Linked DNA regions of Homo sapiens: all the other regions are reported to be linked to region 3. The links are microRNA targets in miRTarBase. Many come from high-throughput screens and were not tested one by one. Region 3 holds a microRNA gene; each other region holds the end of a gene's coding sequence.

What was found. The annotated mature microRNA hsa-miR-3160-5p reads GGCUUUCUAGUCUCAGCUCUCC and lies in region 3 at 2,554-2,575, opposite strand. An mRNA with a match to its seed (bases 2 to 7 or 8) in the 3' UTR can be bound and repressed. Matches are read on the target gene's strand: a 7mer-m8 pairs with bases 2 to 8, a 7mer-A1 pairs with bases 2 to 7 and ends in A, and an 8mer does both.
Region 1: miRTarBase lists HOOK1 as a target of hsa-miR-3160-5p. Seed matches in the 3' UTR shown: 7mer-A1 at 6,628-6,634.
Region 2: miRTarBase lists MAK16 as a target of hsa-miR-3160-5p. Seed matches in the 3' UTR shown: 7mer-m8 at 1,805-1,811.
Region 4: miRTarBase lists SNX5 as a target of hsa-miR-3160-5p. Seed matches in the 3' UTR shown: 7mer-m8 at 6,856-6,862.

The regions. Positions count from the first base shown.
Region 1 is chr1:59,872,318-59,880,349 of GRCh38, reverse strand. It overlaps HOOK1 (hook microtubule tethering protein 1), which reads right to left. Exons shown (of 22, transcript NM_015888.6): 22 at 4,028-7,555. The coding sequence ends at 7,385. Among named protein-coding and RNA genes, the nearest start is that of CYP2J2, 50 kb to the left of the region's middle.
Region 2 is chr8:33,497,000-33,505,000 of GRCh38, forward strand. MAK16 (MAK16 homolog) reads left to right here. Exons shown (of 10, transcript NM_032509.4): 9 at 233-298; 10 at 1,433-4,263. The coding sequence ends at 1,630. TTI2 (TELO2 interacting protein 2) reads right to left here. Exons shown (of 8, transcript NM_001102401.4): 5 at 6,749-6,936; 6 at 6,430-6,573; 7 at 3,329-3,491; 8 at 1,723-2,278. The coding sequence ends at 2,174. Among named protein-coding and RNA genes, the nearest start is that of TTI2, 12 kb to the right of the region's middle.
Region 3 is chr11:46,449,303-46,457,389 of GRCh38, forward strand. MIR3160-1 (microRNA 3160-1) reads right to left here and starts at 2,587; the gene lies at 2,503-2,587. The region is part of intron 11 of AMBRA1 (autophagy and beclin 1 regulator 1); the gene reads right to left. It overlaps MIR3160-2 (microRNA 3160-2), which reads left to right and starts at 2,505; the gene lies at 2,505-2,585.
Region 4 is chr20:17,935,459-17,943,501 of GRCh38, forward strand. It overlaps SNX5 (sorting nexin 5), which reads right to left. Exons shown (of 13, transcript NM_014426.4): 12 at 7,652-7,737; 13 at 6,142-6,949. The coding sequence ends at 6,899. Among named protein-coding and RNA genes, the nearest start is that of SNORD17, 23 kb to the right of the region's middle. RefSeq lists enhancers at 3,254-3,847, 3,480-3,609, 4,850-4,939, 4,970-5,059, 5,035-5,626.

The sequences.
Region 1 (8,032 bases), not on the chromosome of region 3:
TGTATAACCACCTTCATGAATTCAGGAATGGCCGTGTGATTGGCTTTGATCAATAAAATGAGAGCAAAAGTTCCACGAGCCACTTCTAAGTGCTTGAAAGCTGGCTAGTATTGCAACATGTTTCCTCTCTGCCATGAGACCACCAGTGTTCTAGATAAGAGTCTGTCCAGTGTGACAAAGACAGGAAGCAGAGTCACAGCTTATTCAAGATGAACGTATGATGTCAGAAATAAACCTATTTTGTTATAAACTAAACTAAAATTTCAAAATTACTACAGCATAACTTACCCTATGCTGTCAGATACACCTGCATTGTATTTCTTGTGAAAACATGAGATCAAAGTGACATGATAATCATCAATTACAGTAGTAATGCTGTATGGTTATTTCAGAGAAGCATCCAGTTATGCTATTATACAATTTGGAGAACTTATTTCTAGACCTTTTTTTTCCCCAGGCAATTTGATCTTTTCCTCACTGTGTCCACAAAACAAGATATTCTCCCTGCTGACTACAGGATAAATTACAGATTCTTCAGTATGGCTGCTATGTTGTAAAACCCCAGGCTGCCATTCACTTGTAGTCTAGGTGAATGGTGCCCTCTGGCGTTGGATCACGTAGAGTAAGTTTGTCCACAAGCGGCCCAGGATGGCTTTGAATGCGGCCCAACACAAATTAGACAACTTTCTTGAAACATGAGATTCTTTCTTTCTTTCTTTCTTTTTTTTTTTTTTTTTTTTTTTTTTTAGCTCATCAGCTATCGTTGTTAGTATTAGTGTATTTTATGTGTGGCCAAAGACAATTTTTCTTCTTCCAACATGGCCTGGGGAAGTCAAAAGATTGAAAAGATTGGACACCCCTGATGTAGGGCCTGCATAGCCATATGTAAGGGCATGCTCCTTAGGTGGACATATGGTAATTTTTATGATGTGAAATCTATTCACCTTTTGAATTACATCTCTTAGTACTTCTCCTGCCAAAGTACTGAACTATTACTTCCCTAAATAGGCCAGATCCTTCATCATGTCTTTACAGAAGCTAGTTTTTCTGCAAGAAATGTTTAATTATACCTGGCAGACTCCTATTCATCCTGTAAAGGCCAGCCTAAACGTTAGCTCTCCAGTGACATTTTTCTTGACTCTTGGTTAGTTGCTCCTTCCTCCATTCCCTGAGAATTTAATTTAAAAGGTTTTATTTCCTATTTCCATATAATCTCCCAATTAAAATGAGCTTTTCAGAGGTGACTGTGTCTTGTTCACACACATTCAGTACCTGTTTCATGCATAGCAGATGCTCAGGAAATGTTTGTTGGACACACAGTGGAGGTGAGGGGTAGGGGAGAGCAAGCAGCCAAGTGACATTAATGCTGCAGTGTGCCATAAATTTTCCGTAGCCATGCAGCAAGCCATGAACCTCTATATTTCTTAATTTCACATTCTGGAAAAGGTGGGCTTTAAATACTGGTTACTGAGGTCACTCCTACTTTCAAAAATCTGACTTGTGGCGAGAACTTCTGAAATGGTAACTTAAGGAGCTCCAAAAATCCATTCCATAAAAGCACTGAGAACGTGAGCAAAAATAATCAAAATCAACATTTTCAGAATGCTGAAAATTAAAGTCTCAAAACAACCTGAGCATTTGTTTAAAAAAAGAAGAGCTGCTCTCAGTAAAAACAGGGAGCTCTGTTTTAACTTGCCCTATGCCGGTTCTCCTCTCCCCAGCTCTCAAGTATCCTTAAAAGCAACAGTCTCACAATTATGGTAGCTGTGAATACCCGTGATCAAGCAGCCACTGGAGGGAGCAGAATGGGTTTGGAGCACCCCAAAGGCCCCATTCCCAGAAAGTTGTCATTATATGACCTCTCTGGCAGTTCCCTGAAAAGCCCCATTCTCAGAACTTGTCTTTGTTTTACCTTACTAAACGCTGATTCTGTGCAAACCACACTACAGGACATTTGTTAAAAAAAAAAAATCAGTGACAATTGTGCAACATTACAGTAACCCAAGGTAGCAATACAAGTTGGAATTAAAACAGAGGATTAAAAGGATAAACTGGAAATAGAGATGCCCACCGGGGCTTCTAACACTCTAACATATGCCTAGGAATCTAGAAGACCATGCACATGTGAGGGCTACATGCATACCCAGGCAAAGACCTGGAAAGACTCGAATCTCTCATCTCTGGCTGACTGTGAGGGTCTGTGTAAGCAAGAAACTAAGGTTACAATAGAACTGTAAACTACCTGCTGGAGTGTTGAAGGTATAATGCAAAACACACGCAGAGCCCTTTGGGAAAGGCTGAGAGACTTATTTCAAAACATTCAAGGAAATCGCTGTCCAAAATTAGCTGGATACTTTGCTTAAAAAGCACAGAATTCAGTGGCTGCACATGATGAAGAATGGAATTTTTACAGAATTAGTTCAAGTCTCTAAACAAAAGGCAATAACAGTAACAATAATACACTGTGGGGCGGGGTCTGATTTCCAGAGTTTCCACATATTACTTATAATGCCAAATTTCCAATAAAAAATTATGAATCATGTGAAGAAACAGAAAACAATGGCTCATAGACAGGATAAAAAGAAGTTACTGGAAACAGTCCCTGAAGAAGCCCAGGCATTGGATTTACTAGACAAAAGCTTTAAGTATGTTCTATGAGCCTAAGAATTAATTATTGGATAAAGAATTAAGTTAAATATGAAAATGATTTTCCACTGAACAGAAAATCACAATAAGGAGTCAGAAATAGAAAACAGCAACTAACTAGAAATTCTAGATTTGAAAAGTACAATAACTGAAACAAAAAATTCACTAGAGGAACTCAGCAGCACATTTGAGCTGGCAGAGGAAGAACCAATACACTTGAAGATAAATCAATGAGATGATCTATTCTGAGGAGCAGAATCAAGAGAGAATGAAGAAAAATGGGCAGAGCCTTGGAGACATGTGGGACACCAAGTAAAAACGGGTGCATAATGAGAGTACCAGAGAAAAGGATAGAAAGAGGAAGAAAGTATGTTTCAAGAAATAATAGTCAAAAATTTCCCAAGTTTAATGAAAAGCATTAGTCTGCAGATCCAAACTCAACAAACTGCAAATAGAATAAATTTGAAGAAGTCAACACCTAGATCCACAACTCATCATCTTTTTGATAGTCAAGCTGTCAAAAGCCAAAGACAATGAGAGAAGCTTGAAAGTTCCATATCCCCTGGAACTTCAGAAGAATGTGAATTGCGTACATTCAAGCTAGATATCTAGAACAAAGCTGTACCCCACCTAGTTATATTGGAATCTGGGAAGCACAGTTTTGGTTTTCTCTTTTTTTCCTGGATAATAATGTAACAAGCTAAAATATGGGATTCCATCACTAAAGTTAAGAGGGGTAGAATGGATATTCAGGGATAAATAGCAGTCTCTAAAATTATATTACCCAGGAATGTCTTGTTTTTTTTGAGACAGAGTCTTACTCTATCACCCAGGCTGGAGTGCAGTGGCACAATCTCAGCTCACTGCAACCTCTGCCTCCCGGTTCAGGCGACTCTTGTGCCTCCGCCTCCCAAGTAGCTGGGACTACAGGCGCCTGCCACTGCACCTGGCTAATTTTTGTATTTTTAGTAGAGACGGGGTTTTGCCGTGTTGGCAAGGCTGTTCTCAAACTCCTGACCTCAAGTGACCTGCCTGCCTCGGCCTCCCAAAGTGCTGGAATTACAGGCATAGCCACCACGCCCGGCCCCAGAAATGTTTTGATTCCGTGTTAATGCAAGATGTCTAGGTTCCAGAGGTGAAAATGGAGACATAAAAAGACATATTCCCAAATCATTTAATATATCTTTTCATTCCCCAAAAAATTAAAAGGAAAAACAAAATTAGAAGAATGCAATTACTTTTTCTTTACAAACCTACATATTTTCACTCCTCTATTTAATGCAGCAAATAAACATGCATTTATGCCCACTAAAAACCCATCAAAATCAACAGACACAGAAGCATAAAGTTTATTTACTTAAATCATTTCACAACTATTATATTGATAATGGACAATCATTTATTTAAAATAATATCCTAAATACTTACAAAAATAAATCAAATATTGGTTTTATTTTTCAAGTGTCAAAGTCTTTGCCATAGAAAATAGAAAGGACCTTTTATAAGCTAAACATTACATTTGTGCTACATCATTTAATAACTCCACACTCTTTTATGGTTTGTGCTTTACAAATTTCCAAACTACTTCTTCACAATGTACAGGTGCACAATAAAAATGTATGCATACGTTCACATACACACATTTTTACATAGGAATGTTTCTCATTAAATACACATTTAGTGAACTTAACACAGACACTACTGTGGCCTAAAGGCCATCCCCAAGCCCCAGGGTCAGAAGTGCCCTAGAAAGAAATAGGTATAGATGTGGAAACATTATCTAACATTCAAATTAGCACTCTAATTATCAGAAATGATGACATAATGAGGAATACTCACTTTAATATTTCTAAAAAAGATGTCATTAATCTATACTAAATCATTTGACAGCCTTATTCATCGAAAAAATAAACTTCAAATTTTCCTCAATACATAAGTTAATCTCAACATAGACATCACTGCCATACGTACACACCCTTAACCTTAAAAAGAAAAGGAATTTTAATCTTAGAGCAAGTGCTTAACATTGAAGATCATTTGCAAATTGGTCTGTGGTTTTACTTTATAATCACTAGGACATTTAATTCCTTATCAAATAGACAAATGCTGAATATCTCTTCATTGGTATATGTACTCAAGCCTCCCTTATAACACAGATGTGTATAAATCATGGTTCAAGATGAAATGTTTATAATGCTTTACCACCCACAGGGTGTCAACTCACTACATTAACCAGATGTGGAAAAGAATCTCACTTCTGATCAGTTCCTGAATTTCTGTATGATTAATCACAATAATACAGAACTTTAAATTACATTAGTCTTATATAAATACTTACATATCAAACGTTTTGAATCCTACTTATCAACTAGAAAAGTGATAAATCAGAAATTTCCTTTTTCTCTATTAAGAAAAATGAATCTAGCCTTATGTCCTTATTCAGAAATTGCATGATTTAGAAGTTCCAAGTATAATGATCTGATCTGTGAAAACACTAATTTATTAAAGTTAATGTTTTACAATAAATTCCTTTAAAACGGAGTTTGAAGGGCTTGTAAAATCTCAATCATAAGCAAGTAGAAACACCAAAGGGGCAGATGTCTTCGCTGACTAAAATATGTCAAAATGCCATAATATTTAGAAAATGTTAAATACCATGCTAAAATATTTTCAAAGGCTTATTTTATTTTACCAGAAGTCACAGGCAAGCAGACACTACAAGAATATATGAAAATGAAACTCAACAATATAACTGTATCAAAATCTAAGAGGTAGTCAACAGAAGTAACCCTGATAGAACAACATATCCTGACAGGTGCTCCCTAATCTCGGAGATGCAAATGCAGTACGAAATTCTTGTATTTTCAGTAAAAAGTTACCAGGCAAGAATCTAAAAACCAGGTATCTAAAAAATAATAATACTGTAAATGGAACAATACTCACACTGTATTTGCAAAGAAAGTCTATGAATAAAATTTAGACCACAGCTCTACAGCATGCAAGCCAAATCTGGCCTACCGCCTGTCTTTGTAAATAAAGTTTTACTGAAATACAACTATGCCCATTTTGTTTATATATTGTGTATGGCTGCTTTAACTCTATAATGGCAGAGTTGAGTACTTGCAACAAAGATCATGTAGGCCACAAAGCCTAAGACATTTACTAAAGTATTTACTCTTTGTCCATTCACAGAAAGTTTGCAGACCCCTGGTCTAAACACACTGCTGATAGGTATGTATGTTGAACAGCACTGAAATGATTAACTATGGTTGTCACAGCATAAGGTATTCAACTGTATGGAATGTAAGATGCTAATTATGTCACAATTCAGTTCCTTTTTATATCTGAAATAGTCCTAACATTTTTCTTCTTTTTGTGGTCTAACATCTAATATCAAATAGTATTTCCAAGTTACTATAAAAAGATTATGGTACTATCCAATAGAACTTTCTGCAATGATGGAAATATTCTATAGCTGCCCTGTCCAATATGGTACCCACTAGCCACATGTGGCTATTGAGCATCTGAAATGTGGCTGGTGCAACCAAGAGACTGAGTTTATAATTAATTAAATTTAAATTGTCATATATGGCTCATGGCTATGATATACGACAGCACATATTTAACACAACTAAAATTCAAAAGTGCTAACTTTTAAAAATGACCCCAAAAGTTCAAAAGTAACACCTCTGAAAATAAGAGCTTTGGGCAGAAACGAACTGAATACCACAAACTGAGCCCAAGATAAACTCCTTAATAAGTAAACAAAATCAAACTGATCCCACCTTGTTTCATCACTGCAACATCCCTTTTCAATGAAGCAAAATTATTATATGATACAATTTTTCAGCAGAAGCTAAATACAACTTTATGCTTAAAAGCAATAACTGAAATCTTCATTAATTACCTTAAAAAGTATATAGACATTTCACAAAAAGTATATATATATATATATATATATATATATATATATATATAGCTTGCTTTCCATCAGAAAGTCACCTATTACAAATGTCAGTTTATTTCTTATGCTTAACATTTTAAACATGATGTCCAGAAGCCCTTATTTGCCATAGGTACAAATTAGAACTATGAGATTAGATTTTCAGAATATGCAAAATTTCCAATTAGTCAATTTTATTATTCCAAAGTCATTCCAATTGTCAGATCTTCCAAATGTTGTATCTTCCATGACATGACAAGGTAGAGGTACACATTCAATGGAAGAATTAGGGGACAGAAGTAAAGCCTTGTATATATTAAGTCAAAGAAATCACCCTTGCATAGTTCTCCATGTCCCTGCCTCAAGACTGTTTTCATATAAATCAACAAAAAACAAAAAAAGATTAAACAAATCCAATTAATGTTCTAAGATTAAGTATTACTGAATAGCTATTGAAAATTAATTAAGTTACTAATACAACTGAAAACATTTAACTAAAATATACAAGGCCAATTTGAAATTATAATACTCTCAAAAGACAAATGTTTGTTTGAAATGTGTGTATAACTGCATCTCCAATTATTCAAATGTGCTCCCTCAGAGAGATGGCTAATTCTATAATTTGTTTTTAAAGTCAACTGGCAAAATTAATTTGATGCATGTTGATTTTAAAATACCTGATATCCCGCATCATAAACTCTTTTTCAATCTGGTAGTTAGTTGAAAGGTACAAAATATTTTAAGGACACTTCTATTTTATGTGGTTTTTTTGTTTTGTTTTGTTTTTTTTGCAGTTTAATCAGATGTTGTAGCAGGGACTTTAACAGAGAGATTTCTTCTGGTGTTGGTGATGTGCCGTTGCTGCGCTAAGAAAGACCGCGCAGGAGTGCACGCACCAGTGTCACTGCAGGCACCACCGCCGCTCACAAGTCTAGATTCCATCCCCAGTTTCTGGAATGCTAGACTCTGAAAAAAAAAAACATATATTTTTTATTTAACATGACTAAACAGAGTTTGCCGAGTGCTTCTCACATAAAGACACTTAATCCTTAAAACCAACCTATAAAGCTAAGGCTTTCCTCATTTTTATAGAAAATAAGGGTTCAGAAGCTGATTAATCTATGAAATGGTAATGCTAGTAAGAAGGCACAAAATCCATTTTCTCTATTTAATCACTAAATTTAAAATTATTTAAAACAGTAACTTAAAAGAATGGCCTGGAATTAGACTTAATTATAAAAATTTTTGTGTTTGGGCCATCACCGTACCACCTATGAGCAGACATGTCACAACAGAATGGCTTAGATCAAAGGTTCTTGAAGGGTGGTCCCCGGATTAACAAGATTAGCATCCCTGGGAATTTGTTAAAAATACAAATTTAGGGGCCTTACCCAGACCTACTGAATCAGAAGTTCTGCCAGTGCGTCTAGCAATTTGTGTTTT
Region 2 (8,001 bases), not on the chromosome of region 3:
GTTTTTAACCATAATGAGGATGTTTTATTGCTAATAATTTAAATCAAGAATAAGAATGATCTGGTAGCCCTAAAATTTTTAAAATTCAGAAGCATTAAATTTAGAAAGAACTAAATTTTCATTGCCTAGTGAAAAGACTGTGGTTCTCATTATGTTATTTTGTACTTACTTAGATGTCTAATCTGAATCTTCATTATGTATTCTGAACCTAACAGTTATGTTTTATTTATAGGATGTGGGGAAAAGAGAATTTGTCGAAGATGGTGAGGTAGATGAGAGTGACATAAGTGATTTTGAGGTGAGCTTTATGGGTAAAAAGATTGTCCTTTGGCCTGCAGCAAAAAAAAAAAAAAAACAAAAACAGGGAGGTGGCCAGGCACCGTGGTTCACTCCTATAATTGCAGCACTTTGGGAGGCCAAAATGGGAGGATTGTTTGAGCTCAGGAGTTCGAGACCAGCCTGAAGAACATAGTGAGACCTCATCTCTAATAAAAAAAAAAATTTTTTTTTTTAGATGAAGTTTCGCTCTGTAGCTCAGGCTAGAGTGCCATAGTGCAATCTGGGCTCATCGCAGCCTCAGCCTCCCGGGTTCAAGCGATTCTCCTCCTTCAGCCTCCCAAGTAGCTGGAATTACAGGCATGTGCCACTCCACCCGGCTAATTTTTTGTATTTTTAGTAGACACGGGGTTTCACCATGTTGGCCAGGCTGGTCTAGAACTCCAGACCTCTGGTAATCCGCCTGCCTCAGTCTCCCAAAGTGCTAAGATTAGAGGCATGAGTCACAGGGCCTGGCCTAAAATTTTTTAAAAATCATGACCAGGCGTGGTGGCTCACGCCTATAATCCTAGCACTTTGGGAGGCCGAGGTGGGCGGATCACATGAGGTCAGGAGTTCGAGACCAGCCTGGCCAACATAGCAAAACCCCGTGTCTACTAAAAATACAAAAATTAGCTAGGTATGGTGGTGCATGCCTGTAATCCCTGCTACTTGGGAGGCTGAGGCAGAAGAATCGCTTGAACCTAGGAGATGGAGGTTGCAGTGAGCTGAGAGCGCACCACTACACTCCAGCCTGGGCAACAGAGCGAGACTCCGTCTCCAAAAAAAAAAAAAAAAAAAATTAAAATTCAGCTGGATGTGGTGGCGGTTGCCTGTAGTCCCAGCTACTCAGGAAGCTGAGGTGGGAGGATTGTTGACTACAGCAGTTTGAGGCTGCAGTGAGCCATGACTATGCCACTGCACTCCTGCTTGGGCAACAGAGCAAGACCCCGTCTCAAAAAAAAAAAAAAAAAAAAATTAAAGAAAGGGACAATTTCTGAACACAGACATAGACAAATCAATGCCCTAGTCTGTTCTAGATTGAGGGGACAAGGAAGGGAGTTTGGAGAAATCTAGTGTTTTCCCTCTTCCTTTATCTTTTCTCTCCCCGTAATAGGATATGGATAAACTGGATGCCAGCAGTGATGAAGATCAGGATGGTAAATCCTCCAGTGAGGAGGAGGAAGAAAAGGCCCTTAGTGCGAAACACAAAGGCAAAATGCCCTTGAGAGGACCACTGCAGAGAAAACGAGCCTATGTGGAAATAGAATACGAGCAGGAGACAGAGCCCGTGGCCAAAGCCAAAACCACGTGATTTCCCTTTCAGCATTTATACCCAGGACTGAACATGCAGAACTGTTTTTTTTTTTTTTTTATCTTAAACACATACACACCTCCAGTTTTTGCTCTTTTGTGTTGTACTGAACACAATATTTGTGTTTTTATTATTTATGCCACGTCAGTGGGGCAAGAAATCTGGAGTGAGTGAAGAAAGCTAAGTTGTGAACAAGAGTGTTTTTATAGCATATGTGTTGAAGTAACAGCTTGTGCCCGAGAAACTTAACAGATGAGTTCTTGAATCTGGGATGAGATGACGGATGTAAATATTTCTAAATTTTAAATGCTACATTACTTGGTGTCCTTTTTTCTCCCAAACTTTATTTAGAAATGGAAGGAGTTCAATTTTTTCTTGTTCTACTTTCCCTATTCTTATGGAGGTAAAAGGAAAGGAAGGAAGGAAAAAGCAGCTTTCACTTACAAAGTTTCGTGTAAAAATATCTTTTTTTCTTAAATAACTCCATTCATACAAATTGGGATGGGAAGAAAATCCTTTCCTCTTGGGAAAGTAATACAAGTCTTAAGTTCCATTGTAGGGTGCGCCTTCAGAAACCTGCTGCACTTTTCTGATATAGTTCACCACTTTTCTGTCTTCACAGCTTTGGGGAATTTTGGCCAGGAGACCCTGAAACATGAAACCAAACAGGCTTTGATATTTTTTTTTTTTTAATTACTTTCCCCTTTTGCTTGATTCTTCTTCCTTGGTATCATATTCAAAGGAGGAAAGAATGGATGACACTTAGGGACAGGTCACTAAGCAGAATAGGTATTAGTTGGTTTTTTATTATTTTTAAATTTATATAGCTCTCATGTATTGAAGGTGCTACTTTAAAAACTGTGTTAATGTACTTGCAAATCTCCTGCTGGCTCATGAAACAGCAGAATTCCAGCCAAGGCAAATTCAGTTGGATCTAGGGCTTGAAAACTGCCCAAGATTAAAGAGCTAAGATGAAATAGTTTGAATAAACTGGTAAAATAACAATTCATACTATCTCTACATATTTTTAGGATATGAATTTTTTTTTCCTGCTGGGTAGATTGTCCAGTGACTTATGGCATGAATTTCTTTTCATGCTACCTTCAATCTTCAACTAAAGATTTCTAAAAGGGGTAAGAAATGAGGCAGTAGTTTATTAAATACATAGAAGTACACAGCTATTATATGCTGTGGCTTTGAGAAGTTAACTTTTGTGGAATATGAAACCAAAGGAAGAATTTCCATGTAGATAAATTAAGAATAGGGAAAAACATCTACCTAAAAGATGGTTGTCCCTAAAAAACTGGAAACATCTGAAATGCTCTATTTATGTTATTATTCCTGGGAGCTTATAGCCCATTATTTTTACTTTTTTTTTTTAATTCAGAAGACTAGAACAGAACTTAAATTTTACAAACTTTTGATCATAATGCTTTTGCCCATACTGTCTCGTCCTTAGCCCCAGTGACATGTGCTGATCCTCCTGCCTTTAGTTCTAAATGGTTCTGAATAGCTTTAAAAGATGAATAAGAAAAAAGATCAAGCTCTTTTGAGGCTAGAGGGCTCATATGGAGATCTAAAACCCTCCATGTTCATTTCCAGACTTGGTCAGGCACATACATAGTAAATTATAATCAATCATGGGAATTACATAAGGATAATGAGGCCCAACTGAAACCAAGTTTCAGTCTGCCTTACCTTTACCCGTCCTTGAGAACAGCGGTCCAGGAGAATCAGGCAGTCTGTGGCCTCCTGTAGCAGGGCGCTCTTAACAGACTCAGGTGTAAGGTTTGGATCCCTTGCTACATCACAAATCAGTTTCAAGAGGGCCTTCAGTAAGACCACAAGTCTGCAGGAAACTCTGGAATCAGGAAGAAAAGCTATGTTCATACTCTAAATCTGGATATTAAAATTGGAAGAGACTTCAAAGACTGTCAAGTGGAAAGCTATCATTTCCTAAATTAAGGAACTTAGGTCAAAGTTAAATGAAAAAGACCTAAAAACAGAACCAAAGACAGCCTCTAGATTTCTTACCCTCAAGTCTCCTGTTAGCATACTGCCTATACACACAGACACACCCTCTGCCACACTGCTCTCTTCCTTCCAGAAGCTTGGTTCTACTGTAAGCAACAGCTCCTTCATGGGCTGAGAAGGGGAAACCAGGATCTCCCCAACCAAGGGCCTATACTTTTATTTTTCAACTCTATTAACTGAACTATGCTTGGAGAGAGCCCTGAATCCTTTAACTTTAATGCCATCTTAGGCCTGGAAGTTAGAGTGAGGGAAATGAGCTTGGCTTCTGGGACTGTGTCAAGTTGAATTTTCTGTCATTTAATTTCAGATCCTAGCTCATCATCAGTGAAGTCCAGCCTACTTACTTGTAACTATTAACCTTTCTAAAAGTTTTCATCGCCTTGGTAAAGCTCCAGAAATGGACAATGCTAGTGACTGCACAATATTGTGACTGTACTTAATGCCACTGAACTGTACACTTTAAAATGGAAAATTTATATGTATTTTTACCACAATAAACAAAAAACCCTAAAAAAACTTTAATGAAAGGTGGAAAATAATTTAACTTACAATGTGAAAATACAATGTGAAATGTACAATAAATCATATTTATGGACAGATGCGTGACTGGGAGAAAAAAGTTTTCATCTCTATCTAAATACTCCTCATTTTCCTATGGTTTGGGTGCCTCTCAGCCCTCGTTATTCAACTTATAATCGGCTCTGTTTTCCATTTCCCATGCTTCACCCCCTCATACGCATACACACATATTCCTTTTCTACCTCCCTACATTTATTCACTCTCCCTTCTTGGAATCTTGGTCTCTGCTCTTTAAAGACCTGACAATCTGATTCGATTTTATTCATCCATTGATTCATTCTCTTCCAGTCCATTCATTCTTTGAATATTTGTATACCTAATACTAGGTACTGAACATACTTTGGGAGAATATAATAGATGTGGTTTTCCGTTATCCTGGAGATTATAATTCCGTAGGGAGAAAGATAGTAAACAAATGCAACCTAGTTACCAATATGACTAAGGGAAAGGTTGTCATGGGGAAATGTTACTCTGGATTCCTTGCACATTTATAAGGAAGTGAGAGAATACGGTGCAGAATAGCTACTGTATGTTGTTGGGGCACTAGATTCTCTGGCTGAATTCAATTTTCAGCTATGCAAGAGATGCTTCTGCTGACTCCACAGTTTGGGTTCCAGTTCCTGACACCTACCTCAAGCCAGAGTTGGAATGATTTCCAAGCAAGTATATCCTACATTAGTATGCTTTTTTTAAATTTTTATTATTTTTTTTTATATTTTGAGACAGAGTCTCGCTCCGTCACCCAGTCTGGAGTGCAGTGGTTCCATTGCACCTCACTGCAACCTCTGCCTCCTGGGTCCAAGTGATTCTACTGCTTCAGCCTCCTGAGTAGCTGGGACTACAGGTGCGCGCCACCATGCCCGGCTAAGTTTTGTATATTTAGTAAAGACGGGGTTTCACCATATTGGCCAGGCTGGTCTTGAACTCCTGACCTTAGGTGATCCACCAGCCTTGCCCTCCCAAAGTGCTGGGATTACAGGCGTGAGCCACCGCACCTGGCCTCTAGATTGGTATTCTGATCACTGCTCTGCAGATGTTAAATGATGTGCTATGAAGTACTCTATTCTCAATTAGATTTAAAGAACATTAGGATTAACAAAGTTAAGCAAATGTTTTATTGCAACACTTCTAAATGACCTTTAATCTTCTAATATGCATTCTAAATCTAGAGAGAGGTACAACCTGTATGGTTTCCCAACCTATTTGACCACAGAATTTTTTTTTTTTTCCTGTGGGGCATCAAAGAGTACCTAGATGGAGATTCTGCAAAACACCAATCTAAACCATTCTTAAGATATATAGCCAGGCACAGTGGCCCACGCCTATAATCCCAGCACTTTAGGAGGCTGAGGAGGGGAAATCACGAGGTCAGGAGTTCGAGACCAGCCTGGCCAACATGGTGAAACACCATCTCTACTAAAAATTTTTTAAAAATTAGCCAGGCATGGTGGAGGGCACCTGTAATCCCAGCTACTCAGGAGGCTAAGGCAGGAGAATCACTTGAATCCAGGAGGCAGAGGTTGCAGTGAGCTGAGATCGCGCCATTGCACTCCGGCCTGGGTGACAGAGCAATACTCCATCTCAAAAACAAAAACAAAAACAAAAGGCTGGGCATGGTGGCTCACGCCTGTAACCCCAGCACTTTGGGAGGCCAAGGCGGGTGGATTACAAGGTCAGGAGTTCAAGACCAGCCTGGCCAACATAGTGAAACCCCATCTCTACTGAAAATACAAAAAATTAGCCGGGCCTGGCGGTGGGCGCCTGTAATCCCAGCTACTTGGGAGACTGAGGTAGGAGAATCACTTGAACCCAGGAGGCAGAGGTTGCAGTGGGCAGAGATCGCGCCACTGGACTCCAGCCTGGGCGACAGTGTGAGACTCCATTTCAAAAAAAAAAAAAAAAAAAACAAAAAAGATATACTAGAGTTTCAAAGAGAAGCGATTTAACTGTCAGAATCTGGAACTGATACCTGGTAAAAGAGTCAACTATGAGCACCTCAAGTAACTATAGTATATTTTATCTTTCTAATGCCATTTTCTCAGTTTAAAATCCTATAGGTGTGTGAAAATGGGAGGTATTCAAATACATAGTATACATTTAATACTTTGTACTGAATGTATTAAATACATCCAAGCAAGTTCTCAAGAGAAAATCGGCTGAGTTTTGCACCTTAAGGCTGCTATTACCTGGGCCAAGTATGTTGCATGAGAAGTTTTAGGGTTTCCAATATCTTCAGTCTAGCTTCCTCCTCAGGTCCATCATAAACCTCCAGATAACCAATGATGACTCTCTCCAGCCTCTTTAAGTGCCGGACAGTTAGGATCCCCAACCTAAAGATGAAAGAGAAAATATGACGCCAGTGCAGTGGCTCATGCCTGTAATCCCAGTACTTTGGGAGGCTGAGGTGGGAGGATTGCTTGAGGCCAGGAGCTCGAGAGCAGCTCAAGCAACATAGCAAGATCCTGTCTGTATAAAATAATAATAAATAAAAGCCCAGGGCCTCACCTGTTCACGAAAGCCGGCAGGTTTCTTGCGTAGGTCCTGCGTAAAAGAAGGCGGTGCTCTGGCTCCATGTGGGTCAGGATCAGCCGCAGGACCTCATCACAATGGGTGGTGGGTCGAGCTCCATCTCCTTTCCAGTGCAGGGTTTTCTCCAGGATGGGGAATAAATCCAGCAGACACAGGAGCACAGCCTAGGAGGAAGGAATGGAAGGACGGTGCATAGTTCATCCATTTGCATTTACAATACTCACTGACTTCTCTAGAACTTCATTAATCTACCGTCCTTAGGGTCCATACCAGAGAATTCTAAGATACTAGTAATCATATATGAACTGCACATTACTTTACATTTTCAAACTTTTTTACATTCTTAATCTCCATCTGACAGTCTCAAATCAATACATTCTCCTCAGGACCATTCTTTGCTAATTTATAAAATCGGAAAAATGGCAGAGCTGGGACTTTAATCCAGATTTTAGGAATCTAAGTCTACTGTTACTATGTCACTAAGTCTAAGTGACTTAGTGATACATGATATTTACACATTTTTTTTTTTTTTTTTTTTTTTTTGTGAGACAGAGTCACTCTGTCACCTAGGCTGAAGGACAGTGGTGCAATCTTGGCTCACTGCAACCTCCGCTTCTCAGGCTCAAGCGATTCTCGTGCCTCAGCCACCTAACTAGTTGGGACTACAGGTGTGCACCACCACACTTGGCTAACTTTTCTATTTTTTAGTAGAGACAAAGTTTCACCATCCTGGCCTCAAGTGATCCACTCGCCTTGGCTTCCTAAAGTGCTAGGATTTATCCCTAGGCCAGGGGTATCCAATCTTTTGGCTTCCCTGGGTCACAGTGGAAGAAGAATTGTCTTGGGCTACATATAAAATACACTAACACTAATGACAGCTGATGAGCTTTAAAAAAAAAATGCAAAAAAAATCTTACAACATTTTAAGAAAGTTTACAGATTTGTGTTGGGCTGCATGCAAAGCCATCTTGGGATGCATGCAGGCCATGGCTTGGACAAGCTTGGTTCAGGTACTTCCTTTTAACTTTCCTGGGACCTTTGGTTTTTCTCTTGGTGTTTTGGTTTTCTAAAATTTATTTTCTCTACCACCTTAAGAACCCCAGCCTTTCCGGCTGTTACAATCTGGATTCTCAATACCCAGTATTTAAAATACTGTAAAAAGAAAAAGAGGCTGGGTGCAGTGGCCTATGCCTGTAATCCTAGTATCTTGGGAAGCCAAGGCGGGCGGA
Region 3 (8,087 bases):
AAAACTCCAGTAACTATTAAATAATTATAGCAAGGTTTCAAGATACAAGGTCAACTGCTTTCCTATATTGCAGCAATGAACAAATGAATGACTGGAACTTGAAATTAAAAATACACCACCACTTACATTAGCATCAAAAAAATAAACTTAGGTATAAATCTAACAAAATATGTACAAGGTCTATAGGAGGAAAGCTACAAAACTGATGAAAGACATCACAAAGGATAAAACTAAATTAGCGAGATATTCCATGTTCATGAATAGGAAGGCTCAGTACTGTTACAATGTCAATTCTTCTCAGCTGGATCTACAGATTCAACACAATCCCAATCAAAATCCTGAATTATTTTGTGAATATTAACAATCTGATTCTAAAGTTTATATGAAAGGGCAAAAGACCCAGAATAGCCAACACAATATGGAAGGAAAACACAAAATTGGAGGATTGACACAACCCAACTTCAAGACTTAATATAGGCCGGGCGCAGTGGCTCACGCCTGTAATCCCAGCACTTTGGGAGGCCAAGGCAGGTGGATCATGAGGTCAGGAGTTTAAGACCAGCCTGACCAACATAGTGAAATCCCATCTCTACTAAAAATACAAAAATTAGCGGGGCGTGGTGGCGCATATCTGTAATCCCAGCTATTCAGGAGGCTGAAGCAGGAGAATCGCTTGAACACAGTAGGTGGAGCTTGCAGTGAGTCGAGATCACGCCACTGCACTCCAGCCTGGGCAACAGAGCGAGACTGTCTCAAAAAAAAAAAAAAAAACAACTAATGTCCACACAAACACCTACACATGGATATTTATAGCAGCTTTATTTATTTATTCATAATTGTCAAAACTTGGAAGCAACCAAGATGTTCTTCATTTAAGAGATGAATGGATAAACTGTGGCACATCCATACAATGGAATATTATTCATGCTAAAAGAAATGAGCTATCAATCCACAAAAAGACATGGAGGAACCTTAAGTGCATGTTACTAAATGAAAGAAGTCAAAGGCTACATACTATAGGATTCCAACTGTATGAGATTCTGGAAAAGGAAAAGTTATAGAGACAGAAAAATGATGGGTAGTTGGTAGGGGTTGGTTTGCAGGGAGGCAGAGACGAACAGGTGAGCACAAGATTTTTTTTTTTTTTCTTTTCTTGAGAGAGGGTCTCACTCCATTGCCCAGGCTGGAGTGCAGTGGTGCAATCACGGCTCACGGAAGCCTCAATTTTCTGGGCTCAGATGATCCTCCCACCTCAGCCTCCCGAGTAGCTGGGGCTACAGGTGTGTGCCACCATGACCAGCTGATTTTTTTTGTATTTTTTGTAGAGATGGGGTTTCACCATGTTGCCCAGCCTTGTCTCCAACTCCTGAACTCAAGAGATCCACCTGCCTTGGCCTCCCAAAGTGTTGGGATTATAGGCATGAGCCACCATGTACAGCCACAAGGAGATTTTTTAAGCAGTAAAGTTATTTTCTATGTTACTACAATGTTGGATACATGGCACATACATTTGCCAAAACCAGTGAAATTTACAACACCAAGCATGAACCCTAATGTAAACGCATACTTTGAGTGATAATGATGTGTCTACGTTGGTTCATCAGCTGCAGCAAATGTACCACACTGGTGTGGACAGTGGGGAAGCCTGTGGGTGTAAGGGGAGGGAGTATATGGGAACTGTCTGTATTTTCCACTCAACTTTTAATAAACCTAAAAAAGAGGGAGGGGCCACGACTTTCATTCACATTCTAGGAGACAGTGGGAACAGCAGCTGTTCATAAGGACAATACTAGTCATGGTAGTTCATATCTATCATATAACCACAGAAATTCCTTTCATTGAGGCTTAGAGCAAAAGAAGAAATAAAGATTATTCTGATGACAGACAAAACAAGGAGGAAAAGAAGCTTAAATCCAGTGATCCTGGCTAACTATCAGCCAACAACAATGGCAAAAACTAAGCTGCCAAGTCTCATTCCAGAGTCAGGTCTTCAACTTGTAGGCCAGAGCTCCCAGAATGTGTCTAGGGATAAAATCATAATAATCATCACAGTCACATGATAGGTGAGCTCTGCCAAGCCTAATAGCCTCTGTGCATCTCTCTACCTTTGCTTCTCTCAGAAACTCTTCTCTTCTGTTGCTTGGAAAGAATTAGGAATCTTTTTTCAAAACAGCTTCACAGCTTCTCTCTAAGATTTGTTCTAGGAGAAGGGAAATGAAAAGTATGATTCAACAGTTCAGTGAAGATACTGAACAATGGGAATCATTAGCAAATCTATCAGAAAAGCTAATTCGGGGAAGGTAAAAAAGGGCAAGTTGCAAAGAAGGAAATGATTAAATTACATTTCAGTCCTGAAAAATCTGTTTAACTTGAGACTTTCTAATTCAGAATGGCCATCTCTGACTGTGTGCTGCTGGGAAGATGAAATAAGAATGGGGTTGGGGATGTAAACACTCATCATCCTGGAGACACAATTACTATCTTTCTGCTTGGCTGTTATATGAACCTGCCCTGGGCTTTCTAGTCTCAGCTCTCCTGACCAGCTGAGCTGGAGGAGAGCTGAGACTAGAAAGCCCAGGGCAGGTCCAACTGAAAAACTTATCAACTTTTCAAACAGATTGACAGTTGCTTTGGGCTGGAGGGATGTGAGAGAGGGAAAGGGGAAGTGACTGCTGATGTGTATGGGGTTTTTTAGGAGGTGATAAAGATGATATGAAATATCTAGATAGAGGTGATGACTGCACAACTCTATATACTAAAAGCCATTGAAATGTATACTTTAAATAGGTGGCCTGTATGGTAGGTGAATCATATCTCAATAATGCTGTTATTAAGAAAACACTATTCAAATAAATGTCTATCAATTTGTGAAGTAAAAAATGGTAATCCTATTTTTTGGATCCATTTCATTTCCTTAATAATTAAGAGTATTGGTGAACATCTTTTCATTTGTTTACCAGCTCACTGTGTATCTTTTAGATGGTCTACTAGTGTCTTATGTACATTTTAAAAACCTTTGTTATTTTAAGGTTTTTTGTTGTTGTTGTTGTTGTTGTTTGTTTTTTAGATGGGGCCTCACTATGTTGCCCGGCTTGCCTTGAACTCCTGGCCCTTAAGTGATCCTCCTGCCTCAGACTTCCCAGTAACTAGGACAACAGGCACATGCTACCCTACCTAGCTTTGGTTACTTTAACTTTTCTCTTATGGATTATCTGAGCTCTCTGTAAATAAATACACTGGCTTCTGTTTACAAAAAATAATTCTCAGAGCAAGGGAACCATCTTCCCTTTCTGAGTATATCTGCATGGCATCCTAGGAAGAACACTTAATCTTCTTTCCAGAAAGCTTCATTCAAATGCAGTCTTAAAATCTGTCCTAAGAAAGGGGTATAACTAAGTACTCAGTCACACTCACTCTAATCATCATTTAATCTAATCTGAAATCACAGTCAATGTATCCTATAGCCTGGTACCTGGAAAAAGTCCCTGATGACAAATAAGAAGACTTCTTCCATGCTTAGAAGTGTCCCAAGTTTCTCTGAGTTCTCATTTATGATTCTGACATTGAGAAAAATGCCCAAATATATATGTGTGTCTGTCTGTTTAAAATTATAGCTTTACTGAGATATAACTTACAATTCACCTATTTTAAAGTATACAATTCAAGGTTATTAGCATATCCGCACAGTTATGTAACCATCAGCAAATAAATTTTACAACCACCATCATTACTGTCTAATTTCAGGCATTTTCATCTCCCCTAAATACCGTACCCATTAACAGTCACTCCCTTTTACTCTGTCCCACTCCTGCCCTAGCCCTAGGCAATCACTAATTGCTTCTCCTGGACATTTCATGTAATGAAATCATATGGTAGGTGGCCTTCTGTGTCTGGCTTCTTTCACTCAGCATAACATTTTCAAAGTTTATCCACGCTTATTGCATGTTTCAGTACTTCACTTTTTTTTTTTTCTTCCCCAAAGAGACAAGGTCTCATTCTATCACCCAGGCTGGAATGTAGTGGTGCAATCACAGCTCACTGCAGCCTTGAACTACTGGGCTCAAGCAATCCACCCACCTCAGCATCCCTAGTAGCTGGGATTACAGGCACGAGCCACTCTGCCTGGCTTCATTCCTTTTTATGACTGAATAATATTCTATCATATGTTTATAACTGAACCATAGGTTCATATGAGAATTAAATAGTAGTTTTTATTTTATAGAAAATATACTGTGTGGAAAACCAGCAATCATAAAAGGACTTAAGATAAATAGAATTATTTCCATTGTAAAGAAAAAGTAGGGCTTCAAAGACTAATTCTGAGTGTATTATCTATAGCTGAAATAGAGTCTTCACTGTTTCCTGAGGCTAAAAGATATGAAGAGTATTAGGGAACGTCATTTTCTGCAAACCACAAAAATAAAATCCCAAAAAAGCACCACGTGGCTGTCTATAATTCTGGCATAGGAAATGTTCTGAGTAAGGCACTTGGTCTATCATGTTTAGGCAGTTTAATAACTACTCTACCAGTCATTTAATCTGATGCTGAGATTAATCATTAAACAAGTTTGCAATATATTTAACATGAATTAAAGGGTAAATATTTTCTAAATACAGACTTCAATGGTTACGTGTCTTATTTGTAGGAATTAGGCCCCCAAATAAACATAATTTTATTGTCCAATAAACTCCTAAAGGCTCCAAAGAAGGATAATATTAGTCCACATGCAAATCATGAACTTTAGGGGCAGACCTGAGAAAGACTCTACTGAGGCCAAAGGCACTGGATCAGGCCAATATAGCAATGATAGTCTGAGAGTTCAACAAGAAAAGTAGCAAGGCCTGGAATACAGTGTATGAGGAAAGGAAAAGAAATAGCTATGAAATTTTTTTTTAATTTTTAATTTTTAGAGACGGGGTCTTGCTGTGTTGCCCTAGCTGATCTCAAACTCCTGGGCTCAAGTGATCCTCCTACCTTGGCCTCTCAAAGTGCTGAGATTACAGGCGTGAGCCATCATGCCTGGCAAACTGTGAAATATTCCTATGTATCACAGCTTCATAAAAAAATTTTCTCAAAACAACAATTCAAACCAGGATTACATGGCCACAGCACAGTAAGGTTTATAACAGGTCAAAAAAGAAAGAGAAATTGGCCAGGTGCGGTGGCTCACGCCTGTAATCCCAGCACTTTGGGAGGCCAAGGCAGGTGGATCACGAGGTCAGGAGATCGAGACCATCCTGGCTAACACGGTGAAACCCCATCTCCACTAAAAATACAAAAAAAAAAAAAAAAAAAAAATTCTCCGGGCGAGGTGGCGGGCGCCTGCAGTCCCAGCTACTTGGGAGGCTGAGGCAGGAGAATGGTGTGAGCCCGGAAGGCGGAGCTTGCAGCGAGCCGAGATCACGCCACTGCACTCCAGCCTGGGTGACAGAGCGAGACTCCATCTCAAAAAAATAAAAATAAAAAAAGAAAGAAAGAGAAATTAACCTGATATTCATTAAAGACACAGCAGTAGATAGAGCCTTCTTATCTGGAATAAGTAGTAAGTGAACAAGGAATCTGGTATTAGCTTTTTTTTTTTTTTTTTTGAGATGGAGATGGGTTCTTGCTGTGATGCCCAGGTTGGAGTGCAGTGGCATGACCACATCTTACTGCAGCCTCAACCTTCTGGGCTCAAGTGATTCTCCTAACTGAGCCTCCCAAGTAGCTGGGACCACAGGTGTACGCCACCCCACACCCAGCTAATTAAAAAAAAATTTGTTTTTGTAGATATGGGATCTCAGTATTTACCCAGGCTGGTCTTAAACTTCTGGCCTCAAATGATTCTCCTGCCTTGGCCTCCCAAATTGCTGGGATTATGGGCATAAGCCACTGCACCCAGCATAGGTTTTCTTTTTCTTTTTTTTTAATTGTGCTAAAAAGAATACAACATAAAAGTTTACCATCTTAACCATATTTAAGTGTACAGTTCAGTAGAACTGTATGTATGTAACAAATCTCAAGCTCTACTCATTAAACAATTCCTCTTTCCCTCTCTCCCCAGTCCCTGGTCACCACCATTCTACTTTCTATGAATTTGACTACTTTAGTTAGCCTCATATAAGCAGAATCATTTACTATTGGTATCTTTTAACATGCTTTGAAAGAGGAGATGCATAACTAGGTAGCGTGCACACAAAGACATTCACAGACATGGCATAAAATCAGAATAATATTCAACTCTACAGGAAAGTAGTAAGGTCTGATGGGAGAATATAACCTCTTGATCTGTCATGGCCAGAATGAAAATGGAGACTCCCTTAAAAAGCCAGTCAAATAACTCAAACAGAGGATAGGGCTCATGCCATCCGGCCTGGTGAGCCTCAGAAAGCATACAGCTTCCATAAGAATACTTTGCTCCCTAATTCAGTAATAATCCCCAATGATTCAATCACATTGCCTTGAACGCACCAGTGCCATCCAGAGTTCAGCAATGAGTTACCACCCCAAAGAAAGTAAGTAAGTTGCTCTTTACTAGGTCATCCTTCCTTCCTCCCATGACACTGAAACCCAGGATTAATCTGGGCTGTTTACAGGGTGGCTGGTGGCTCCTGGATCCCTGAAGTCAAGCTGAGATGCTCCTGTGTGGGTAGAGAAAGAGGGTGAGGCCTGTTTTTATCACCATGCTATAGACTTGCCCTCCCTCCTTCAATACATATGTCCTAATGAAGCAATTACCTGCACTTACACTAATGATGTAATTGGGACAAGTAATTATGAAAGCAGAACATCCATTTTCAAAGAAATGAGTATCATTACCTTTATTCCACCCACAAACATTATTTAAGACAAAAACAAATAAGCTCACAAGAACACATGCTACTGAAAGATTACTAGGAACAGTATTCCAAAAAACGTAGTGTTAAGGAAAAATGGGGGAAAAAAAAACCCCAAACACAAACATCTAGCATTCGCTCCCACCAGGCAGGGATTTCCTCAAAGCCTCTACCTCTGACAAAAGACTTGCAGGTGGATAAGAGTATTAAGAATTACTCTACCTCCACTAATACATTCCCCACAACCTGACACTGCCAATACTTAATCCCAGCAACAGAGGACACTGGCTTAGGTGGGTCCCTAGGTGAAGCCAGGAAAACTGTCAGCCTCTCATCATTATGCAATGCAGCTGCTTAAGGGGGTGCCTCAGCAGCATAAGAATGGGCAAAGAGAGGGGTGAAGGTAGGGAAAAGGACTGAGGGAGAAAAAGGTGAGAGAGAAAGAAAAAGAGAGCGACTGACTCAAACACTAAATGGCTCTCACCAATCACTTGTCTTAAATTGCTGAGACTCCCGCAGCTTTTATTGTTTGGTGGAAGCACAAGCGAGTGGAATTGGACCAGAGGGTCTTTGGCTCGTCAGCAGCAGGAGGGAAACGACCTTTATTGCTGCAAAGAGGATGCAGATTTCAAAAGCCTAAAATCTGCAATGAAGGGAAATGGAAATGTGCTGAACGTGGGTTTGACTGGCAGCTTTCCTCATCTGTCGATCACAGGGTAATAAACACTGGGAGATGGCAGAAATGAAGATAAATGCTTTCAGCAGCACCAGTCCCCACCCTCCCCTCCTCTTCCGCCCCCACTCAGCACATGACAAGAGAGTTAAAGCAAGAAAATAAATCAGCTTCTTAACCAACTCTTTTGTTAAAACTTTCCTTACAGGCCACCTACACGTGAATTATTGCTCTATGAGCCTACATTCACATTAGGGGGCCCAGCTTCTAAAGGGTGAAAAGCTCCTGTCAAATCAGCACCTGTACATTTCAGGGTACAGCATTACAGCTGAGTCAGTTGGGGCCAACATGCAAGAAAGAGGACAGGCCTGCTCCCAGCGAAGAAAGGTGAAGAGCTCCCAAGCCTGCTGAACCCTCTAATTCAAAGCCTGCTTCATTCAGGCTAAGGACAGCATGGTGTCAGTCCACTGCAATCACTGCCACATTACCATTACCCAGCGACAGACAGGCTAAGCTCCAAGGGCTAACAAATCCCACAGAACTTGGTGGTCAAAGGTGAGGTTAGATCGGAAAATGGACTCCTAAATACAACACTCAG
Region 4 (8,043 bases), not on the chromosome of region 3:
GTGAGTGTCTTGCGGGGGCAACTGTCTAATACAGTAGCCCCTAGGCTCATGTGACTATTTAAACAGAAATTAATTAAAATTAAGCAAAATAAAAACTTAGCTTCCTCAATTGCACCAGCCACATTCCAGGTGCTTAATAGAGAAGTGCCAGACTTGGCTGGGCGCAGTGGCTCACGCCTGCAATCCCAGCACTTTGGGAGGCCGAGGTGAGAGGAACCCTTGAGCTCAGGAGTTCGAGACCAGCCTGGGCAATACAGGTAGACCCTGTCTCTGTAAAAAATAAAAAATTAAAATAATTTTTACAAAAGAGAGAATTGCCATACTTGGCAGATAAAAATACAGGACACCCAGTGAAATCCGAATTTTAAATAATCAACAAATTTTTTTTTAGAATAACTATGTTCCAAATATTGCATGGTATGTATTACACTATATTATTTGTTGTATGGAATTCAAATTTGGCAGTGTTCCATGTTTTATCTAAATCCCAGCTAACATGTGGCTAACGACCACTAGGCTGGACGGCACAGATACCGAACATTCCCGTCACACAGAAAGTCCTTATGAACACTGCTGCTCTGGAGAGGTCTTCACTCACCTGTCTGCTTCCTGGGCTGGGAGGACGTGAAGACGGGGCTTCACTGGAATGTGGGACCTCTGTATCTGGCGTGGGTCCTCACGGATGGCAACCACATTCCAAGAGAGTGGCCCAAGAGCAAGGCTTCCTCCGCTCTGTACCTGGAGGTTACCCGCCAGCGTCACTTCTGTCCTGTTCTGGTGGGTTACACATGTGCCATTCCAGCCAACCCAGGTTCAAGAGGAGGGGGATCCGATTCCTTCTGATGGGAAAGCTGCAAGATCACATTACAGAAGAGTATACGGGACTGGAAATATTGTTGGAAAATACAACGTTGGAGTTGGGGACATCAAATCACGTAGGGCTTTGTAGTTGTTGGAAGGACTGGGGCTTTGAGTCAAACAGGGAGTCATGAAGGGTATTTGCAGAGTAGGGTCACAATCTGACTCATGTGCGAAGAAGATTCCTTTGGCTGTTGCAAGTGAATAAAACGTAGGGGGTGAAGGCAGAGTCTGGGAGTTTCCTTAGGTTGTACCTAGCCCTAAACTAAACTGAAATCAGACCCCAGCCTAGTACTTGGTGGTGGAGTTGGCATGACGATCCCAGCTTCTGGACCCTATTTCCCTCTTCCCTGCAACAAGGACCCTTGCAAGTAGCCCCTCCCCTCACACCAGCTTCACCTCTTGCCCCCAATTCTGAGGCGAGTCACATCTGGTCAGTTTCACTCCCCCGCCCCCTCCTATGGCGACAAGTGCTTTAACAGACAGTGCAAAAGGGGTCAAAAGCACTGCAGACATGAACCAGACTTTAGAAAAACACATAGCGCGAGCCCTGTTGGGATTCGCAGCAGGCGTTTCCAATGTTTTTCTCGAGACTGCAGGCTTGGGATTTCCTGTCTTCTGAGGCATTCGCTGAGCAGGCCAAGATCAGCTTCATAGGAAGGCAGGAATGGGGCTTCCTACATTGCTGTCTGCAGGCTCTCTCTGGCTCCTTTCCTCTCCTCCCCTTAGGGTCTTTTTTGTGTATTCTTTCTCCTACTTCTGACACTTTTTCTGCCCCCAGATAAATGTCCAGCCACCTGCCTCCCAACAGGACTGAATCACGGGATCATGATACAATCAACAAATCCAAGGAGCTGAGAGGCCCCGGGAGCTGCAGCTGCATCCAGCTGGAATCTTGAAGGCTGGCTCTAGCTACGGGTTTCCACCCTCATGCGAAGTGTGCCAACTGCTTCGCAGAAACCTCCTAACTTCAGCAGGGCAGAGCAATGGGAAGCTATGTCAAGAATTGCTATGGGTATCCGGCCTGATTTAGGGGTAACTGATACACAGCCTAACACCGCACAGCACCGTTCTTATTAACTGTTCCTTGACTTTGCCCTGTCTTAGGTTGACCGTCCAGAGCATGGGTCATCCCCTCCCTGTCTTTTTGCAATGTAGAGAGGATGGGGTAAACAACAAACACATGACCTCCATTCCCTCTCCAAACCCCATCAGAACAACTGGAAAGGATCTGCAATGTAACAGTTAAAAAGTAAGGCCGTTCATAAACAGTTCCTGAAACCCAAGCAGCTGGCCAGTCTCCTGCTCCATTTCCTTGCAGCAAGTTTCAGTGGAAACTCTATACCCCAAACCCCCAAATCCCTACCCTTTGACTGATGCGAAAAATCCCCCCAAACAGGCCTTTGTTCCTTTAGCTGAGGACACACCAAATGTATTAATGAACGTGGATAAGAGCTGGAAGGCAACTATCAGAAGTGGCTGTGGACTAGGATTACAGGCTGTTATTTTCCTGGCCTGAATATTACAGGTCCCACAACTTAAGAAGCTTTAAAGGAGGTTTGTAAAGCATGTATTAAAAAATAAGGCAGGCCCAGTTGGGCAGTGGCTCATGCCTGTAATCCCGTTTTGGGAGGCTGAGATGGGAGGACTGTTTGAGGCCAGGAGTTCAAGACCACCCAGGGCAATATAACAAGACCCGTCTCTACAAAGATTTTTTTAAAAAAATTACTCAGGCATGGTGGCGTGTGCCTGTAATCCCAGTTACTTGGGAGGCTGAGGTGGGAGGATGGCTTCAGCCCAGGAGCTGGAGGCTGTCATGAGCCATGACCGCACCACTGCACTCCAGCCTGGGCAACAGTGAGACCCTGTCTCAGAAACAACCAACCAACCAAAAAAAAGAAAGGCTCAATTAAAAATTAAAATCCTCCCAAACAGCTACCTAAACCATTCACAACTTCTAGCTAATGAAGACTTTGGTTGGGTGGGGTGGTTGCTGAAGGCAGGGAAGAGGCTGGGAGGCTCAGGGCCTCTGTGCTTGTCTGCAGGGGGCCCTCACCTCTTCCTCATGGGAAGCAGGCCGTGGAAGGACAAAGATGCAAAAGAGCTGTTTTGGGGCCTCAGGAAAACTCCTCCATGGATCTCCACGGAGAGAGAGAACCAACAGCAGAAAACCTCCAGAATCCAACCCCAATGCTGGCATCCTGAATCGTTTTTTGTAAACAATTCCTATTCGGATAGGAAAAAAATCTAGAAACATTTAATAACTTATTCTTGAGATGTGGTATTTTACTGTTATTTTGTTTTACAAGATGTGGGGACTTCATTAAATCCCTACATGTATTAAAGTTAGAAATAAACATTAAAACCAAAAAAGTCAATGGTTTTGAATGGTGACAAACCAAACCTCCAATAAGAAATCACTGTGGGCAGCTCACCCACGCAAGGGGCACCTTGTGTATGTGCGAGGAGTGGATGGGGAAGGGCGTCCCCTGGACCTTGCAGACCCAGCTGTGTCTAAAGGACATAACTGATCACTGCCCAAATGTTGTCCACCACCCCCAACTTCCTTCCAGACACATCACATGGCCTGGCTGTGAACCCCCATCAACATCACAACTGTTTTGACACCAGGCTCAGATGGGGAGTTCTCGAACAGCATGGCCTCAGCAATGGAGGTTGTGTCTTGGGTAACCAGAAACCTGAAGCCCGCAGGAATCCTGGAGGGGACTGCTGGTCTGGGAAAACACCATTCAGAACTACTTAACTCTCAAGTAGCCTGACATTTCTCTTCCTGCTACCTTAGCTATAAGCTGATAATCTGAGCAGCTCTGCGGGGATACCAGGCTCCTGCTCAGCTGTGGGTGGGCAGGTGGCTGTGCTGGGTCGCCCCTGCCGCCTACAGGCAGAAAGCGGATGGTGCAAGGTTTCCTTCCAAACGGAAATCGCCCTTCACAGAGCTGAGCCTGGGAATTACCACAAAGAAACCTCACAAAGAAAAGGTGCGCAAGGCAAATGTTCAGAAAACAGACCCCTAAACCCTGAGATGGCACAAGTGAATGTGTTGGGTGGTGAACTGGCCAAATGCTTGTGCTCTGTCACCACAAACGACCCCAGTGGTCTGACATGACCTCAACGGCTTCACAGACCAGGGGTGTGCTTTCCTTCCTCGTGACAATCTCCTAATTTTGCTTTTCAGAGTGGGGGAGGGCGGGGAGAGGGGAGGTGGATGGCAGTTGTCCCTGTTGTCTAGTCTGGAGTACAGTGGTGTGATTTTAACTTACTACAGCCTTGAACTCCTGGGCACAAGCAGTCCTCCCACCACCTCAGCCCTCCAGGTGTATGCCACCACTGTAGGTTAGCATTTTTTGTAGACACGGTTGCGCTGTTTCTCAGGCTGGATCCTAGCTTTTAATGAAATCGTATGACATGTGAACTGTGCAGTTTTGCGTGTGCCACGAGGCAACTTTCTCAGCCGTGCCTTGGGCAAGTCACAGCCTTTTTGGCCTGGATGCCTTAAGGCAGCCCATCTGAAACCACTTCCCATTCCCATTTCTAGAAACCTTCAAGGGTTCCCTATGAATTGTGCACCCACATGGGTTTTCCTGGAGGATCACTAGTTCTCAGAACCATACAAGCACACAGCAAAAGCCTCTCCACACATCACCCTGAAGTGACCCAAATTCCCATTTCTCAATGTGGGACCTATGCTCTCCTGCACTCCAGCAAGATAGCTGTGGATTCCCACCTGATGCTGTTCCTCCTGCTGCCAAGTGCCTGCCTGCCTTTCCAGGTCTCAGCACACCACACAGGTCGCAGTCAGCATCTAAACCCATCCCCCCACCCCAGACCACTATGAATGCACCCTCACATACAGGTAAAGGTAGCAACTCACTAGGTGACTGACAGAAGGGGAAAGGTGACTACATCCCTGACCCAGAGTGCCTCAAATTTCCTAAGTGACTGTCAGGTGCAATTTAATGAAAAGCCTTGGAACAAATACAGCAGGTAAAACATCTACAATCATACCATCCATGAAGGCTGTATTAGAGATTGCTGGCATAAAACTAATTTGAGGGGCCTCTGAAGTGCTGACTCCAGCTCACAGATCAGTCAGCTGAGAGAGGCAGCCTAGATCACTTGGTGAGCAGCAGACCCAGCACTCAAGATTCATGCCTCTGCTGTCCATTTGACAAGGTTTAGTCTCAAGAAAATGCACCAAGGCCCCGAGGCCAACAGCCAGAGCTCCACCAATCAGGGCTGATCACACTGGTGCTCAAGCACTGCGGCCCAGGAACCTGACTGCAGGAGTGCTGGCTCTACACTAACAGAATGCTGGGCGTGTGTGGGTGGCTGCTGTGGACATTATGGGGGAGATGGGTAGGAAGGACAGATTTGGTTAGGAGCCCAGACTGAAGTTACAACTGCCAAGTTTAAATTCACTCATTTTGTGCACCGTTTCCCAAGTATGTACTGTGAAGGTAGAAGGCACTGTGGCCGCCTGTAAATAGCTGGGGAGGCAAGACACGAAGACCAGATAAATGTTAAGAAACATGCTCCCTGTATGTATTGAAATCAGTTCTGCAACCCTCATACCAGTTGGCTGTAACAGATGCTAAATGTGGTGGGTAAAATGTTTTTAGTCTCATGGTCTTACCATGAATTACTTATTAGAAAGGTAAAGGAGATTACCACCCTAAGTGCTCAGTCATCAACAAAGGAATAGACACACAACTCCTGAAGACATGTCATTGGCACCAGGGAGTGGTTTCGTGGAAGACAATTTTTCCATGGACAAGGTGGGGTGTGGAAAGGGATGGCTTCCAGATGAAACCATTCCACATCAGATCATCAGGCATTTGATTCTCCTAAGGAGCGCACAACCTAGACCTGTTGCATGCCCAGTTCACAATACTGGGTTTGCACTCCTATGAGAATCTAATGCTGCTGCTAATCTGACAGGAGGCGAACCTCAGGCGGCAATGCTGGCTCACCTCTTCCTAACAAGCCATGGACCTGAGACTGGGGACCACTGCCCTATGGTAAAGGCCCTGGCCAAAATGCAAACCTCCATCAGGTCAGGAGCAAACAGACAAACCCACATTTAGAGACCATCTAAAAAAGGCCTGGAGTACTTAAGAATGTCAAGACTAGGACAAATTTCCCCTGACCGCCCCCAGGACTCTGGGCAGAACCTGAAAACCCTGTAACCACAGCCAAACCCTAGCACCACCTGCACTCCTGGGACACACTCTGGTTGTAGTTTCCACGAAAACAGGCCGTACATTAGTAGCACGATTATTTTATTATATGCTTTATAAAAAAACAAACACCCAAAGACATACAACACACCGCCCTCACCCCCCAGCGGCCATTAGGGAGGGGGCTTATACTTTTCCTAATGTAGATCTGGCCATCTTATAAAGCAGACCACATTATTTGTTTCCATATATACCTGTAGATATTTCTCTCCCCTCAAATATTTATATCTCGACTAAAAAAAGGAGGTGCAAAGAGTATATAAAGATAAATGAGATTTTCTTGCTGTTGTTATAGTACAAACACCAGATGACTACCAGTGGAGTAACAGGGCAAAACAAAAACACAAACCCCACCTTCAGTGAGGAATGGAAGGTCTGTTACCGACCTCAAGTAGCTGAATCACCTGCTGTAACTGGCACCTCCCTGACAATCATGGGTTTGTAGGGACATGGGCCAGGTGATGGCTTCTACTTGTTTCCAGAAGGCTAATGTGTCCTACACCCTTTCTTAGTAACTAAAGACGAACTACGGGAGAACCCAGTATTTGGATTCTGCCCAGAGGTATTAAATGCACAAGGAAAAATTAGTTATGTCCAAGTAGCAAGCAATAATATTTTTAAACCAACATGGTTAAATGTTAAGATTTGTAGAAATCAAAATATTTATTCACATAATTTTAAACTAAAGTTGAAGCTAATATATCTTCCGTGGTAATGATTTAAGTGCAAGTGATGCTTGGCTTTCTTTCACATTCATTTCTTTTCTTCTGAGTGAAGGCATATCAGTTATTCTTGAACAAGTCAATACAGCTCTGCAAAAGGGAGACATTGTTCTGTGGGGAAAAAAGGCAAGGCAGACCAGTGAATTATTAAAACTTGCCATATACCTGGAATGACTCAAGTACACCAACACGGCTTTTCACGGGAGGTTTAAAGTCAGCCAGAGCAAGCTGGCCCTTCTCTTCATCAAATCCCAGGTGAACTGCAACGTACCACGCATCCCCATTTCATGTTTCAGCTCCTCTCCCTCAGTGGGTAAGGCTACCAGCCAAAGAGCCGACGTTCACTCCAGCACCTCTGCCCTCACCTGCTTGCTCCTAAATGTGATCCTGCTTACTGTAACTTCTTAAGACACTATCAGTGCGTTGTTCCATGAAGGCAAGGGCCTTGGAAAGATTGAATAAAAGTTGCTAGAAATTAGGGCTGGGAGCTTTAGCTCACACCTGTAATCCCAGCACTTTGGGAGGCCAAGGCAGGTGGATCACCTGAGGTCAGGGGTTCAAGTCCAGCCTGGCCAAAATGGTGAAACCCCATCTCTATTAAAAAAAAAAAAAAAAAGTTGCTAAAAATTAGTCATGGGTGACATTATAAACAAGACTACAAATAAACAATGAGTGGCTCCCATCAACTAAGTACTACAGACGATTAATACCACAAGGCCACCCCAACTGCCTGATGACAATGGGTTAGTAAACTGGGAAATAACTTGGAAAAAACCATAAAAGATGTTGGCTTCATCTGTAGAAAACACTTACCCTGGCATGTTTTATTTCCAGTTCAGACATTTCAATTAGATTCTTTCTAAATGCTGCCACTCTCTTCCGTTTGAAATTTATCAGTTCTACAGGAAGAAAAAATGTTTATGAAACCAAGAAAAACTAAACAATTTTCATGTTCACTTTAACTACCAAATGGCATTCTTACAAATGGTCTCCAATGCTTTCAGGCACCAGCATTATTTCCTCACATTTGTATTATCTCTGTGACTGGGACACATCAGACATCTATTAACTGTGGTGATACAGCTATCACTGTCTTTAAGTGGAAAACATCACTGAATCACCAAGCATCGTGAGTGGGAGAGCAGCAGCTTATGACTTGGAGAACACGTTGATGAGCAGCCTCACTCTCACCCTCTAGGTACCAG